Linked DNA regions of Homo sapiens. The protein of the gene in region 3 interacts with the protein of the main gene of each other region in a pairwise test. Each region holds a gene or a part of one and is shown on either strand. Other genes may lie near its edges.

Region 1 (4,560 bases), on a different chromosome or scaffold from region 3:
CATGTCTAAAACACCAAAAGCAGTGGCAACCAAAGCCAAAATTGACAAATGGGATCTAATTAAACTAAAGAGCTTCTGCACAGCAAAAGAAACTACCATCAGAGTGAACAGGCAACCTACAACATGGGAGAAAATTTTCGCAACCTACTCATCTGACAAAGGGCTAATATCCAGAATCTACAAGGAACTCCAACAAATTTACAAGAAAAAAACAAACAACCCCATCAAAAAGTGGGCGAAGGACATGAACAAGTATTCTTTAGAGAGACAGAGTACCACTGTCCGATTCATAGGGACCACACTTAGATGATAAAAGGCAGAAGTGCATCTTCAATTATGTATATAGACATCCTTTCAAAAGCAAAGAAGATTATAGAAAGGTTACTAGTTTAGAGAGTTCTGAGAAAACACAGAGGTGTACATGAGAAAGAACACAGAATAAAAAAGAACGGTAGTTAGAAACAAACAAAATAATGATTGTACTTAAGAGTTTGTGAAATTTCCCCCACATCAATTTGATCTCTATTCACTAAGATAAAAAATTAAACAAACTCAGGATTACCAACCAAAAAGGAAAAACTTTTAGAAATTTAAAAGCACTATATAAAAATAAGATGTTATTATTATTTTTTAGTAAAGCAAAAGTCCCTATTGAGAATTAAATTACATTTACCTTTGCCTGTTAAGTAGAATTTTTGTTTGTTTATTTTGCTCTGGGGAAGGTAGAGTCTTTTCTCATCTTCTTTTAAAATAAAAAGACTCTTAAAAGAGGGCCCCCTTTACTCCTCAGAGGCAAGGACTTTGGCTTCTTTATCTCTGTATCCCCAGTACCTAGAAAAGTGTCTGGTGCTCAAATGTTTTTTGAGTTGAACTCAACAATGGAAGGGAAAAGAAGCGAAATAGTTGGCATAGCTCTGGTGAGAGTTTGTTTCAGATCCAAAGAACAATATGAAATAAGAGATTAACAGGAGGAAGAGAATAAACAGCAAAGGGTTTATATTACTTGGAGAGGAGGGAAGGTGACAAGTATGGGAGATTAGGAAGTTTTCTTTGTCCAGGTACGAGAAACCAAGCAGAGAGATCTAGATCTTAAAAATCATACAAAAATGCTATTGGTCTGATTTGGAGACAATTTTCTTAGATTGAAAGAAGAAAGGTAAACAGCTAAAAGCAAACCAATAATCTGGTGTATGGGAGACGGTGATATTGATAGCTCCTAAAAGGGGTAACATTTAAGAATCTGATAGGGGAATTCAGGCAAAGGTAAGGAATTCTGTCTTGTAGAAATTAAGTTAATGAGATATTTAAGGATGTGGGAAAAAGAAAGCAAATGCAATTGAGAGAAGAAAAACCAGATAAGTAATAATTTCAGATGGCTATCAAAGCTATGGAAACAGATGAGTTCTTCCTTAGAAGATGTGGTAAGAAACAAAAGTGGAGTCCAAACGCGTATATAATCACAGGCAGACAATGAAGATAAAAGATATTTAAAAACATTTTTGGAAAGAGTGGTCCATAGGAAGGGGAATTTTAAAAGAAGAGATATCTAATCTTCTTAAAAGAAGAGGCCACACCAAAAGTAACCTTTGCTTAGGAAGGAATTAGCCATTACAAACTTTTGAAATCAAGACGATGCTGGAGTGGAGAAAAGGATTCTCTAAAGAGAATCAAAAAGAACTGCATCAGGGAAGGCAAACATATCAAATAGCACACTGAACTCTTGTCTTTTCTTTGAAGGTTGCACATTACCTGTTCAAAAGCTGTTGAAGCTTTTCTCCCTTGCTCTAGATCAACTGCAACTGCCATAAGTAAACATGTTTTCCGTGCAATCAGAATTACTTGATCAGAAGGACAAAACTGGGACATCTGATAAGAAGTAACCAGAACATCAATGAATAGTGAGAATTCTGCCAGGTGAACACAAACAATCAGAATGAAAATCAGCAACTTCCTGTTTGAATGAGAAAATTCAGCTGGAAAAGCACATGTCACCATAGAAATGATATAAACTATAATACTGATTTATGCTTTTAATTTTATATTACTTTCCATTGTTTTTAGTACCTTCCTAGAGATAAAAAGCTTCATTTCTTCACAGTATTCCTATCTTTTCCAGTGACAAGTAGTATCATTCGCCCTTGTATTTCTATCTAGTGATTTACTTCTTGGTTTATGTTGTAATTTGTAAGTGATTTTTCCCCTGGCAAATAAGATTTCCACCTTTGTATTGAATAGAGCCAAAATTAGTTCATATATTGTCATGGTTGAAAGAGGCATTGTCAAATCTTGACAGGCATTAGTCATGACCTCATCATTAACATTGTATAGTTTTAGGAAAAACTCCCAGCTACTACAATAAAACTCTAGGCCATTTGGATTCTTACACGCCAATCCTACAAGTCCCATCACAAATGCCAAAACTAAAACCAATTTATTTCACTTAATTAAAATGGCAGTTATGCCTAAACTTGCAAAGACTATTTCTTAATCTCCCCAAACATTCAGTGATCATAATCATCATTGTTATTAAATTAATAGCATTTTAAGACAACCAATCTCTTTAGGTCTCTGATTACTCTTATGTGAGATGAAGGAGTTGTGCTAGATAGTCTTTATAGTTCTTTCTAGCTCTAAAACTCTTAACATTTAATTGATCTCAACATATCATACTGTGTATTCCTGAATGTGTATGAAGGATATTCTTTAGTCCTTCTCCTTTTATCTTCCTGTCAATACTTGGTCCTCTTTCTGGCATTTAACCTCTACCTTGGAGGCCAACGACTATTTAAAAATGCTTATAATTAAATAACAAACTCACAAATCGCTACACTCAGGACCTGCTATAGGAAAGTTATAAAGGAGGCCTAAGCTTCTTATCTCTTTTTTCAGCCCCTGCTATCCCCAGATACTTATTCTATGTTCTTGTAGACTTATTCCCATAACTCTTCATAATGTGTTGGTAATTAACAACTACTTAGAGTATTCCCCTCCTAAAGATATTTACATTTTAATATAGGACTTTGGGAGGCTGAGATCCCTTCAAAGGCAAAGAAATAAGTCTTAAATGGTAGAACTTTAGGCTCCCTGATGAATGTTTCTGATATTTTGGTATAGAAAGATATGCCCCACATTCTTATGTTATACCCTAAAAGGAACAAATTCTTCTTAGGTCATTCCTGCTTACATATATATTAAAAGTTCCTAGATCAAGAGACAATCCTAGTCTATATTTAGCCCTTTACTATAGCCATAGTGGTTATAGCCTTGTTGTGGTCCATACATGAGATACTTATTAAAAGAAACTTACCTTATAAGAAAGTATAAAAAACTCTCTCATCATCACTGGATCTTTGTCACATTGCACAGCCAAGTTCCAAGCTGGAAATTAACATGAAATAACATAATAATATGAAATTATGAAAATCTACCATTTAGTCTGTACCATTACAATTTCTGATACTTACACCTTTGATATTAACATACTAGTAAGGGGTTTCTCAAGGTTTAAACAATTAACTTTAGGTTTTAAAGAAAAATTTTCCAGGTAAATTTAGAGACCCTCGTCAATTCCAATCTTCAACACTAGACCAATGACCAAGGGAGGTACTGCTGAATTTTTTAAAATTGGGGACATGCAATAAGAATTCTTAGCTGAGGCCAGGCTTGGTGGCTCATTCCTATAATCCCAGAACTTTGGGAGACCAAGGCAGGAGGATTGCTGGAGGCCAGGAGTTCAGGACCAGCCTGGGCAACAGAGAGAGACTCCGTCTATACAAAAAAATTAAAAAACAAACCAAAACAAAACAAAACTAGCCAGGTGTGGTGGCACACAACTATAGTCCCAGAAGACTGACACCAGGAATTTGAGGTTACAGTGAGCTATGATGCCACCACTGCACTCCAGTCTGGCAGCAAAACTCCGTCTCAAAAAAAAAAAAAATTCTTAATTGACACTAATCTATCTAAAAATGAAGATCAACATGGATAGAGCTCACTAACTCGCAGTGGTGAAAGTAAGTTAAAATTCACCTAAGAACAAGGTACACTGTAATCAAGAGTTGAGAAAAATTACTGGAGAGATTCATATCTTCCAAAGAGCAGTAGAAGCCCTCATCAGGCATCAGTCAGCATCATCTTCCCCTTGGAAAATCCAAATTAAAATGCAGTAAAGTAAAAACATTCCTTTTCAAACCTTCAAAAGATTAAAGTCACCAAACTTGTCTATATTTTAAATGTTTGTTATTTTTCATTATTTGCATCAGTTTCTTAGAAGTCAGATTGCAGTATTCATTCCCTTTCTCCCAGGATTAAAGCCCTATTAAACCTCATAACACAGGGAGAGGTTCATGTAGAATCAGTCCACTTTGTGGCACTGCTGCTTAATTGCTCATGCTTACTTATCACTGTAGTAACTGCCTCCGCAAGTTTTAAAATCATTTTTATTGAAATAGAGCCATTATAAAGTATATTACACAACTCATAATTGTACAGCTTGATGAATTTTCACAAAGTGGACATATCCATGCGTCTGGCACCCACATTAAGAAAGATCTTGAACAT
Region 2 (3,979 bases), on a different chromosome or scaffold from region 3:
GCCCACCTCCCTGGAACCCCAGCCAGGCCTGTGTTCCAGGCACTCGGGGGTAAGGGAGGGGAGAGGTGGAGGGGCACAGCTCCAGAGGCCCGGCCCACTGGGAGGGGTGGACAGGAGGGAGCCCAGGAGACATTCAGAGGCCCTGGGTAGGGGTGGGGGTGGGAGGCCAGGTCACCTGGGTGACATCAGTTAAACTCTGTGTCAGCAGGGAGCCAGTGGGGGCCTACGTGGGTGAGACGGTTTGGGGCAGTCCTGGTTGGGGAGGCTGGGCTCGGTCTGGCTGGACATTCCCCTTTGAGGTTTACGCCCCCTAGGCTTCTGGGTCAGAGCAGAATCAGGGTAGGGGAATGGAGCCTCTCCCAGAGGCAGGAGGGCCCCAGGAAGGAATCCCAGGGGCAGTCTGGGGGTAGACAAGAGAAGCCCCTGAGGGGACTGGGTCTGCTCCAGCCCCGGGGCCTCTAGCTCACCCCCTATCCCACCCCTGTGGCTGTCCCTTGTCAGGGCAGCATCAGGCCATGTGAGGTGCTGGTGGACACAGACTTCAGGGAGGCTGACATGGGGAGGGCCACCCTTAGGAAGGGGTGGGTTGAGGACTGGCCTAGAACAGAGGCCCCCAGACCCCAGGCCATGGGCCAGGACCAGTTCTTGGCCTGTTAGGAACCGGGCCACACAGCATGGGGGGCGCAGCGGAACCCAGCTTCCTCTGTGTTTACAGCCACGCCCCATCGTCTGCATCACCGTCTGCACTCCACCTCCCATCAGATCAGTGGCGGCGTGAGATTCTCATGGGGGCGGGAACCCTATTGTGAACTGCGAGTGCGAGGGATCGAGGCTGCACGCTCCTTGTGAGCATCTAATGCCTGATGATCTGTCACTGTCTCCCATCACCCTTAGATGGGAAGGCCTAGTTGCAGGAAAACAAGCTCAGGACTCCCACGGATTGTACACTATGGTGAGTTGTAGAATTATTTCATTATATACTCTAATGTAATAATAATGGAAATAAAGTGGACGATATATGTAATGCATTTGAATCAGCCCCAAACCATCCATCCCCTGGTCTTTGGAAAAACTGTCTGCCACGAAACCAGTCCCTGGTGCTAAAAAGCGTGGGGACTGCTGGCATGGAAGACGGGTTCCCCCAGCACCTCCAACAGGGAATGCTGCATCCCCAGGAAGCCTTGGGGCAAGGCCTGTGGGGTGGGCCCTGGGTCCTGTGTACCTGGAGGCAGGCACAGTTGGGGGACATGCCTGGAGGCTGCTGCATCTGGAGGCTGTCATGCTTGGCAGAGGGACACACCTGGAGGTCACTGTGCTCGCTCTGGGGCCATCCAGGGAGTTGATGCCTTCCTGAGCTTATTCTTTTCTGGAAAATGGGAATAGCCAGGAGTCTGCCCCGGAGGGTGGAGGGAACAAAGCTCCAAGGGCATCAGGGCCTGGCCCCGGGACTCCTCAGTCAAAGCCAGGGAGCCTGGACCTCGGCCGAGCCCTGGCTTGCTCCTCCTCTCCCTTCCACAGGCCTGGGGCCTCTCCCTCAATGAAGCTCGCGGGCACCGAGGCTTAGAAAAGCACACAGATTTATTGCATATCAATCTCATGTATAAATTCATTGGAGCATTGGAAAGATTACATTTGGTATACAGTCCTATTCTACAGCATTAACCTCCAAATCGGCTTCTCCTAGGCTTTCTCTTAAGGAAATGTCTCTACACAAGTACATTTGTGTTCATCACAAGCATCAGAATGCAATTTGCAAAATTGTTCTTTTCATGATTTCCTACACTTCACGTCTTATTTCATTCTTCTCCCACAGCGATTTCCGTATTAATTGGGAACTGCGCCTCTTTCGCGTCAGCAGTTCAGGACTCCTAGTCTCAGACGTAGATCCTAATCACATATTCAATAAGTGCATCTACAGAATTTTCCTTTTAATAAAAATTTCACCAACAGACACGATAATGACCGCTAAGCAGGAGTCATGCACAGTTTACTTATAAACAGAACAGAAGCAATTTACAATCAAGGGGGACATGGGGCGAGCGCCAGCCTCCTTCTCAATGGTCTTTTTAAACATTATATGAAAACCAGACATTTACATTTGATTTCTTTTTCAATACTATACAGTTCTAAAAGAAAAAACAAAACAAAACAAAACTAAACCAAATCTGTAATGTAACAATGGCAGAAGGTGGCGGGCGGCACAGGTCTGTGATTCTGCGAGGATTCTTTATATCGACCTTAAGGGACAAAGTCCATATACACACACGCTTTAAATTACGACTCTGACACCAGGGCTCAGCATCCCTCGTGCCGAAAGCGCAGTGGCAATGCACGTGACGCTGAAGGCAATTGTTAGAATGACTTTTGTTCACAAGTGAATCACACGTTTGGAAACTCAAGCTGCCTTTTATTTATTTATTTATTTATTTTTTTCCAAAAGTGGTAATACGGATCAGTGACAGAAAAGAACAAAACAAACACAAAAATGGAATGGAAGGAGCAGAGGAACTCTTCTAGGAAGAATGCAAGGATGGTTTTGTCACAGTATCACTCATTGCTACAGAGACACAGTTTCATGGCTTTTGATACCCGGCTGACCTCCACTGACCAGGAGCAGCTATGTCCTGGCGTCCCTGGCTGGGAGGAGAGCCTTGCCCTCCCCCACAAGGCTGCAGTGCAGGGGCGAGCTCTGCTCTCCCTCCCCCTAGGACAGCACAGTGAATATAGCTCAGTAGGTTTCAGTCACTTGGGCAGGGGGACGGGACAGAGGGGGCAGGGGACCACAATCCAGTGCTTTGAGGCTTCGAGTCTAAAATACGTGATATGTATTCAGGCAAGTGTTTTGCAGACGCTCATGGGGAAGCGGGGAAGGCAGAGGACGCCAGGGCCCTTGGAATTTCCAGGGCTGGACTCTGGGGACGTGGAGGTCTTGGCCAGTCGGGGTCTGGATGGGACAGCTGCACGCGTGGCCTTGTAAAGGAAGGCCTCTCCAGCTGGGCAGTCTCTCAGGCCACACCACGCCCACCCCAGCCACTGCTCCACACCCCAGGGCCCCAGGCAGGGTGCAGGGGCTCGATCCTCTGGGTTGAAGTCAGTGATATCTTGGGTCCCACTCATGAAGGGTCTGCCAGGCCCACAGAGGAGGAACCCCACGTGCCCAACCTGGGGATGAGAGCAGGAACGGGTGGGGACGTCGGCTCGCTGGGGGCTGGGGTCTGAGGAGCAGCGGAGGGCAGGTGCGAGGAGGCCTCCTTCGGAATTTCCATTTGGGGGATGGGGGTTGACAATCCAAGGAGTTAGCATTGGGGCAGCATTTGGGCTGAACGGAAGGGCCCTGGACCCCTGGCTTGCAGCCCTGACCCTGGCCACCTGGCCATGGACACAGCCAGCTGCCCCGTCGCATCCCTGTCCATGCTGCACAGTTACATGGCCCCGTTACGGTGTGGTGACAGCTGGAGGCCAGAATCTCTGAATTCTCACACCCGGGCCAGGCTCCCTGGCCCTTGTCATCTCTGGGCACCAACACTGCTGGGCAGAGCAAAACTGGGAGGGCGAGGCTCGCTGGGGCCTGGGGCCACACTAAGTGTCGGGGCCGTGTTTTGGGGCGCACCAGCCCAGGAAATAAGTGCTGCCTTTGTCAGGGGCTCTAAGAACAGGGCCTCCTGAAAACGCCAAGTGCTGGGGCCTGGGGGTCTGAATGCTCAGGAGAAACTGGGCTTGCCATCATTTTCAGGGGGACGAAAATATATGACTTAAAACGTGCAACCAGGACTCTTGGGAAAGGTGGAAGGAAAGAGCGCCAAGAGAAGACAGGACGGTTAGGAAGACAGCCGAAAACGGCGGGATGGGACTGGGGGATCCGGAGACCAACGGTAAGGGCGGCTCTCATCGGTTCTGCTCCTGCTGAAAAGACACGCTGAGGGCTCCATCCGTCCGAATGTCCCACTTCAGAGAGACGGGGTCATATTGCAAAAAAAAA
Region 3 (3,680 bases):
TCCCAGCTACTCGAGAGGCTGAGGTGGGAGGATGGCTTGAGCCTGGCAGGTTGAGGCTGCAGTGAGCCGTGATTGCGCCATTGCAATCCAGCCTGGACAACAGAGCAAGACCCCATAAAAAACAGCTGCACACCAGGACCAACCATGCCACTGTGCCCCATGTCCTGCCCTGACCGCAGTGGGCAGGGATGGGAAGGGCAGCTTAGGTCTGTCTCCCTCACTTCAAGGGAGCTCATCAAAGTACTTAGGAATACAAAGGAGCTATCTGAAAAGAACAGGTTCAATCTAAGCATAATGACCTTTTTTTGTTTTTTTGAGACAGAGTCTCACTCTGTTGCCCAGGCTTGAGTGCAGTGGTGCAATCTCGGCTCACTGCAACCTCCACCTCCTGGGTTCAAGCAATTCTCCTGTCTCAGCCCCCCGAGTATCTGGGATTACAGGTGTGCACCACCATGCCTGGCTAGTTTTTGTTGTTGTTGTTCTTGTTTTGAGAGAAGTCTCGCTCTTGTCCCCCAGGCTTGAGTGCAACGGCTTGATCTCAGCTTATTGCAACCTCCACCTACCAGGTTCAAATGATTCTTCTGTCTCTGCCTCCCAAGTAGCTGGGATTAAGGCGCCTGCCACCACACCCGGCTAATTTTTGTATTTTTTAGTAGAGACAGGGTTATACCACATTGGCCAGGCTGGTCTCAAACTCCTGACCACAGGTGATCCGCCCGCCTCAGCCTCCCAAAGTGCTGGGATTACAGGTGTGAGCCGCCACGCCCGGCCATGTCCGGCTAGTTTTTGTATTTTTAGTAGAGATGGGGTTTCACCATGTCATTCAGGCTGGCCTCAAACTCCTGACCTCAGGTGATCCGCCTGCCTTGGCCTCTCAAAGTGCTGGGATTATAGGCGGGAGCCACCGCACCTGGCCGATCTTTTTAAAAATTAAGAGATTTAGTGTTAATTGAAGATGCTGAGGAATGCAACCTCAATTAGATTTAAATACAAAAACAAAAACCTCCACCTCTCTGTATGTAAATACATCTAGAAAGATGTGAACTAAACAGGCACCTCTGGGGATAGACAGAGATTGCAGGTGCTGGTCAAGGGGGTGATCTCACTTTGTGTTGTGCTGCTTTTTAAGTAACACAGTTACTGAAAAATAATTTGATGTTTTGATACCTGTATCTATCCATCTATGTATACACACAGACACTGGGAAAGGATCCTTACGGTCAAGCTAATTAACATATCCATCACCTCACAGTTGGTTTTCATGGTGACAACACTTAAGATTGGCTCTCTTAGCAAATTTCAAGAATACAATATGGTATCATCAGCTGTGATCAACATGATGGACACTACTCCCAGATCTCCCAACCGAGGGATGTATCCTTTGACCAACATCTCCCCTTTCCCCCAACCCCTCACTGTCTTCATTCTTACGAGAATGCACTCATATACTAAGCAATGGAAGGCCTTTTTTACAAAAGAGGCTAAGAAAGATGTCAGGCTGTCTCTTCAGACTTACCAGCTCCTCTTGGATCTGCTGTGTGCGTCTGCTGAGTTGAGCGTTATACTGATGTCTCAAGAAACGCCTGAAGGAGAATCAAATGTGGGCTGCCTTCAGTATCTCAGAAAGAATTAAATAGAAGTTAGATAACTGCTGACCAGGCTGTCTCCTTTATGGTTTCAGCAACACGAATGCAAGTCTGAAAAAGCAAGAGGCCCACCCGCCTGGGAAGAGTGGGGGGCCCTTCTGACACACACCCCAGCTCTGCCTTCTGCCGGAAGGCTTCCATCTGCTTTCGCTCTTCCTCCAGCCTCTCTAGCTCCCACCGCTGCTTCAACAGATTCTCCTGCTCCTTCTTTAGTTTGGTCGCCTGTGGTGATGATGAGAGTAAGCTCGACTGAGATCTGAGATCGTGGGAATCAGATCTTCCTTCATTCTCCATCTCCATTTTTCGCAGACACTACACCAACAGAGGCCTGGCCATGCAGGTGGTCACGATCCCCTCCCACCACTCACTTACTCATCCAATCCCCTCTGAGCCATTTCCTGCAAGGGCCTTTCTGAGCCCTGAACTCTAAACTCCCACAGGATCCTGTACTGGTCCACTCTTACTGTAACTTAACAACTGTCCTCCACCTGACACAGCCCCCACCAGGAGGTCAGGACTGTGGGCCTTGGTCAGGCTCTATCTCTAGTTCCCAACCCAGTGCTCAGCACCTAGAATAAGCAGTAGGCACTAAGAATGTAGTTGCTAAATCACGGCCTGGGCAAGGGGAAGTGAGGTCACAGGAGCATGGGCCTCCCTCTTCTAAATAGAAAGATCTCTTTCAAGGAAACTGTGCCATGTTCTCCAAAAACAGCCCCTGGACCAAAAACCCTCAGTTATGCCTCGAGACCCGAAACCTGCTCCCCACGGAGAGCTGGGTGCTAGACCACCCGATTAAATTGTGTCTACTCAGTGCACTGGAAAATCCAGATTCTAAGAAGGTTCTCCAACAGCAGGCCGCTAACCACCTCTAAGAGAACAGCTACTGGCTCCATGTCGTTAATGTTCTGGAATTCAGGCACGCAAACGAGGAGGATGGGAAAGCACAAGGCAGATGGGGATGCATGTGAGAGGGAGAACCCGGCTGCTGCCGCCCTTTGCAGAATCTCAGCCCTGCTATGGCCTCTTCTTAGGGCAGCCTCTCAAGTGCCCATCTCATGCTAACGAGCAGCTGTGGAGGAGGTCACGGCTGAGAGGGGCTTGTGCCCACCTCCACCTCCTTCAGCTTCAGCTCCTCCATCTGTTGCAGCAGTGCCTCGGCCTGGAGCTTGTCCTCCAGCTGCCTCCTCTCCTCTTCAGCTTTCATCCTTTCTAGCGCCTCCCTTCGGGCCCTTTCATATTCATTTTCATACCGTTTGTTCTCTTGCTCTGCGGTGGCTTCTTGCTACAAGGGACCAAATGAACACAGGTCAATATCTGTACCGTAAGCCAACAAAAACCTAGCTTCCTGCCGCCGTTCTGCAGGCCACAGGGCCCAGGCAGTTCCTGCCTGAATCCCAAATGACAACGCCCTCAGACGCCAAGTCAGGGAGGGACTCAATAATGTTGGGTTTCCTCCCCACTCAACAAAACACTTTCTAAAATGAACCAGGCAGCAAAGCGACCAGTGCACAGAGGTGTGGAAGCTTAACCCCAAAGGGGTTACAGTAAGCCAGGGCTGCGAGTTTACGATGCAGATTTCATCAAAAGAGAGACAAAAATGCCCTTAAAGACACACGTCCTAGCTGGACCCTGTGGCCCACGCCTGTAATCCCAGCACTTTGGGAGGCCGAGGTGGGAGAATCGTTTAAGGCCAGGAGGCCAGACCAGCCTGAGCAACAGAGCAAGACCCCATCTCTACAAAAATTAAAAAATTAGCTGGGCGCAGTGGTGCGTACCTGTGGTCCTAGCTACTCGGGAGGCTGAGTTAGGAGGACTGCTTGAGCCCAGCCAGTCGAGGCTGCAGTGAGCTGTGAGTCGCGCCACTGCACACCAGCCTGGGTGACAGAGCAAGACCCTGCCTCCAAAAGAAAAAAAGAAGACGCGTGCTGTATGTGCCACCTCCCAGCCCTGGTCACCTGGCCTTATTCTGCCCTGGGAATTATCACATAGGATTCTGGTATATGTAAGAGCAAACATTCAGTTTTCACATGTGTC
Region 4 (4,560 bases), on a different chromosome or scaffold from region 3:
AGGGAAGGTGGGAGACCAGGGAGGGGCCGCTGGGGTGCCCAGGAGAGCCAGGGTGGAGGAAGAACATTGTTGCTGCAGCACTGCCTCCAGGCTGGAGAGGGAGCCAGGAAGAAAGTGAGGTAGCCTTGCGGGGGCTGGGGCTGGAATCCACCCCCTCCCATTAAGCAGGGTAGGGGGTGTGGATGCAGGGGAGGGGCTCAAAGCCCAGGACGGAGGGAAAGGCTGCTAGGCTTCAGGAGACCAGCCTGCCCGGAGACAGTTATGGACGCCCAAGGCAGCAATGGCAAAAGCAGGAATAAACGGTCACCTCCCTTCCCACAGCCCCTTTTTCTCAAGGCTGGACAGGCCTGCTCTGCCTAGAGAACAATTCATTTTGGCCCCAAGCCCTCAGGAGGCAGGAGGAAGGCAGGTGGCAGATCCCCTGGAAGGGGCCAGGCTGGGTGGCCAGAGGGACAATGGCCCAGAGCACAGGGCTCAGACCCCCTACAGCCAAGGTGGGCTCCAGTTGCAGAACAATCATTCCCAAAACAGTCACTGCCATCAGGGCAGCCTGCTGCTGCCACTGCCACTACCCACAGCCACACAGAGCCTTGGGCCAGCCCTGAACTTGGTGTCAGAGGCAGCCTGGGGTCTAGACACAGAGCAGGGACCTAGCTCTCTCTCAAGTGAGGGCTAAGGGCAGCAGGGCACGTGTGATCAGGATGGCCCCACCTCCTGGAGAGGTTAAGATTCCTCAGATGCAAAATGGGGGTGCCAATCTCCCTGAATGCCCCCAAACACTGGGAACACTGTAAGCACCAAACTCAATTCTCATATGGTCACCACTTCAACCTGTGACTAGGAGCCAGTCATTCAGCCTCAGTTTCCCCATCTGGTACCCTAGTCCCCCAAGTCTCAAATTCATAGCGCCTTGTTTCAGCACAGGGATGCATCTGTCTGGAACCCAGGCAAGGACTCTGGGGCACCCCATCTCTACCCCACCCATTGGTGCTCACTCCAGTTCAGCCACAGGGACTCCATGAAACCTTGTCACAGCCCCAAGAGACAGCCGGGCCTCTGTGACTCGCTCCCAGCGGAGGACACCATGGACCCAGAGCAGGGAGGCGAGTGGCTGGTGCAACTCGGTTAGCAGGTGGCAGAGTGAGGATGGGACTCATAGGAGATCCTGTCCAAGTAGCGGTGCAGGGGCCAGAGCTTTCTGGGCAGCCTCCAACCAGCTCAAGCCTTTTGCACACGGGCTGAAGGAGTCTGGGGTGTAGGACGTGGATCCCTGGACAGCAACCAGTCCCAAAGGAGGTGCTCACATGCACAAAGACAGGATAGAACCCCTTTAGACGGGACCCTTCAGACAGGACCAGGAGGAGAGAATGTCACACTCCAACGTTTGAGTCATGTCTGTACCACATATACTTTTAAGGTGGGGAGACAAAAACTGAACACGGATTTAAAATAAAGGTAAAAGACAAAGTTAGTTTTAAAACACCTTTACTGGCTGGGTGCGGTGGCTCATGCCTGTAATCCCAGCACTCTGGGAGGCTGAGGCAGGTGAATCACCTGAGGTCAGGAGTTCGAGACCAGCCTGGCCAGCACAGCGAAACTCTGTCTCTACTAAAAATACAAAAATTAGCCGGGCATGGTGGTGCATGCCTGTAATCCCAGCTACTTGGGAGGCTGCAGCATGAGAAATGTTTGAACCCAGGAGGCGGAGGTTGCAGTGAGCCGAGATCGTGCCACTGCACTTCAGCCTGGGTGACAGAGCGAGACTCCATCTCAAAAAAAAAAAAAAAAAAAAAAAGGCTGGGCGCGGTGGCTGACACCTGTAATCCCAGCACTTTGGGAGGCTGAGGCGGGTGGATCAGGAGGGCAGGAGATTGAGACCATCCTGGGTAACATGGTGAAACCCCGTCTCCACTAAAAACACACAAAAAAATTAGCCGGGCGTGGTGGCGGGTGCCTGTAGTCCCAGCTACTCAGGAGGCTGAGGCAGGAGAATGGCGTGAACCCCAAGAGGTGGAGTTTGCAATGAGACAATTGCACCACTGTACTCCAGCCTGGGCGGTAGAGCAAGAATCCGTCTCAAAAAAAAAAAAAAAAGCCGAGTGTGGTGGCTCATGCCTGTAATCCCAACACGTTGCACTTTGGGAGGCCGAGGCAGGCGGATCACCTGAAGTCGGGAGTTCAAGACCAGGCTGGCCAACATGGTAAAACCCCATCTCTACAAAAATACAAAAATCAGCCAGGTATGATGGTGGGTGCCTGTAATCCCAGCTACTTGGGAAGCTGAGGCAGAAGAATCGCTTGAACCCAGAGGCAGAGGTTGCAGTGAGCTGAGATCACACCACTGCACTCCAGCCTGGGCAATACAGCAAGACTCCATCACAAAAAAAGAAAGAAAGAAAGAAAAAAAACACCCTCATAGTCTCTTTCACTGGAGCACAGAGAAGGCAAGAAGTTTGGCCTTCACCTCCTGGCAGAGCTCCAAGGGAAGGCCTCTTCCCCCAGACTATCTGGCCAGGTCCCCTTGGCCCAGGCCAGGCCACCATTTTGTGAAGCCACACCACAGAGGTAGTCAGGTCTGAAGCCCGTTGCAAGATGGGGAAAGCAAGGTAGTCGGGATGGGAAAACGTGTTCAAAGTCGCATGCGGCTCCTGGGCGCAGCTTTATCCCCTTTTCCTCCCCTCCCTCCTTCAACTGCTGGAGGAAGAGCCCAGGAGCTCAGGCTTCGGTTTTGGCCGCCAGCCTTTGTCTGCCCCTGCCTGCCCTGTGCCCCGTTCTGATGTGAATATCACCCGAGGCCCTTCCCTCAAAGAGGAGGACCAGGGACATCACGAAGCACACACCCCAAGGACCCCGATCCAGCAGCTCCCCTTCTACTTGTGAGCGTCCCGAGGGCTGGGGCCATCTCCAGACCCCCTTCCTTAGAAAGGCAGTGGGACCAGGACCTCGTCATCACGCCTGTGCAATCCCGGCTCTACATTTTCCCGTCTGTGTGCCCTCGGGCAAGTCGCACCCTCCCTGTTTTCCCTTCTGCAAGGCCCTAGAGGCAACAGTGGGCAGCAGTGCATGGTGACCACAGCCCAGGCCCCTCCCTCTGGCAACGGACTTGTGACTTGCAGCCAAATCAGCTCTGCCGCCTGCCTCCCCTCCAGCCAGCACAGACTCCAACAGGGGCCCAGCTTTGGGAGAGGCTCTTTCAAACACCCCTCAGCCTCTGGCCAGGGCCTGGGGCCCCAAGGGCTCCTCGGGGAGCTATGTGTAGGCAACTTTATTCGGCCCCTGGGCCTGGGCAGTTCATGGAGATTCCTGAGCCTCAGGAAGGGGAAGGCGGGCTGGGGTTTTGCCCCCAGGGGGCACAGCGGGAGGGAACCCTGGGGACCTGTACCTGCTACTTGGGGCTGAGCTCAGCCGCTTGGCTCTCTTCTCCAGCCAGTCCTCCAGATGGCCCTCGGGGAGCTCAGGAGCATCTAGTAGCCACTCCCTGGCTCGCCTCTCCTCTGTGGGGACAGGGAGACAAAGGCAAGTGAGGGGTACACTCCTGCCTGCCAGAACCCTACCCTCTCACAAAGCAGAAGCAACTGGTAGGCCCTGAGCAAGCCTGGGAAGTTGCAGCAACCTTCCAGGAGGATGCACCTGGACTGCTTCTCCAGGCCATCTGTGCACGAGGGCCCAGCACTCGGCCTCGCTCTGTTTTCCCATCAAATAGAGACAACCCCGGCTGCCTCCAAGCTCTTGGGGAGCTGGAAACAGGACAGTGCTTGTAGAGAACCTGGCCCTGGCCAGGCGTGGTGGCTCACGTCTGTAATCCCAGCACTTTGGGATGCCAAGGCGGGCGGATCACCTGAGTCCAGGAGTTTGAAACCAGCCTGGCCAACATGGAGAAACCCTGCCTCTACTAAAAATAAAAATAAAAAAAATTAGCCATGTGTGGTGGTGGGTGCCTGTAATCCCAGCTACTTGGGAGACTGAGGCAGGAGAATCGCTTGAACCTAGGAGGTGGAGGCTGCAGTGAGCTAAGATCGCACCACTGCACTCCAACCTGGGCGGCAAGAGTGAAACTCCATCTCAAAAAAAAAAAAAGAGAGAGAGAGCCTGGCCCTAAGGAGGGGTCTGAATCTGAGGTGCAGGGAGGCAGTGAGGGCAGTCGAATGGGGTCACATCTCAGCTCTGTCACCTGCCGGGTCTTTGACCCTGGGCAGGGTAATGAGCCTCAGCTTCCCTGGTTTTTATTCTCATAAGCTGTCCAACAAAACCTGTTGCTCAACGAATTAAAACCAATCAACGAATGGAATTTATACAAGCTGGGTGTGAGCGTTTGATGGGGTCAGAGTCGCCAAGTCATCTGGGATGGAGTCTTGGGCCAGAGGAAAGTAATCATACACTTGACTAGCACTCACTCAGAGCCAGGCCCCAGTCTCTGGAGCTCACTCGGGGCCAGGCCTCGGTCTCTGGAGCTCACTCGGGGCCGGGCCCTGGTCTCTGGAGCTCACTTGGGGCCGGGCCCTGGGCTGTACAGGTGTCATCTTGCTTCATCCTTAGAGACATCACATTCGACAGGACACA

Evidence for each region. The genes of interacting proteins can lie anywhere in the genome.
Region 1: the proteins of TCHP (region 3) and TEX11 interact in a two-hybrid assay, tested with the Homo sapiens proteins (one large-scale study listed by BioGRID and IntAct).
Region 2: the proteins of TCHP (region 3) and PRDM16 interact in a two-hybrid assay, tested with the Homo sapiens proteins (one large-scale study listed by BioGRID).
Region 4: the proteins of TCHP (region 3) and ZMAT5 interact in binary tests that used the Homo sapiens proteins (3 or more experiments, as listed by UniProt).

What each region holds. Positions count from the first base shown.
Region 1 is NC_000023.11:70,603,652-70,608,211, forward strand, and holds part of TEX11 (testis-expressed protein 11), read right to left. Parts: intron 3,379-4,560; coding exon 3,308-3,378; intron 1,867-3,307; coding exon 1,750-1,866; intron 1-1,749. UniProt on the Homo sapiens protein: Regulator of crossing-over during meiosis. Involved in initiation and/or maintenance of chromosome synapsis and formation of crossovers.
Region 2 is NC_000001.11:3,436,203-3,440,181, reverse strand, and holds the end of PRDM16 (histone-lysine N-methyltransferase PRDM16), read right to left. Parts: 3' UTR 1,561-3,979; downstream 1-1,560. UniProt on the Homo sapiens protein: Binds DNA and functions as a transcriptional regulator. Displays histone methyltransferase activity and monomethylates 'Lys-9' of histone H3 (H3K9me1) in vitro.
Region 3 is NC_000012.12:109,906,774-109,910,453, reverse strand, and holds part of TCHP (trichoplein keratin filament-binding protein), read right to left. Parts: intron 2,929-3,680; coding exon 2,755-2,928; intron 1,869-2,754; coding exon 1,756-1,868; intron 1,584-1,755; coding exon 1,517-1,583; intron 1-1,516. UniProt on the Homo sapiens protein: Tumor suppressor which has the ability to inhibit cell growth and be pro-apoptotic during cell stress. Inhibits cell growth in bladder and prostate cancer cells by a down-regulation of HSPB1 by inhibiting its phosphorylation.
Region 4 is NC_000022.11:29,734,948-29,739,507, forward strand, and holds part of ZMAT5 (zinc finger matrin-type protein 5), read right to left. Parts: intron 3,495-4,560; coding exon 3,383-3,494; intron 1-3,382.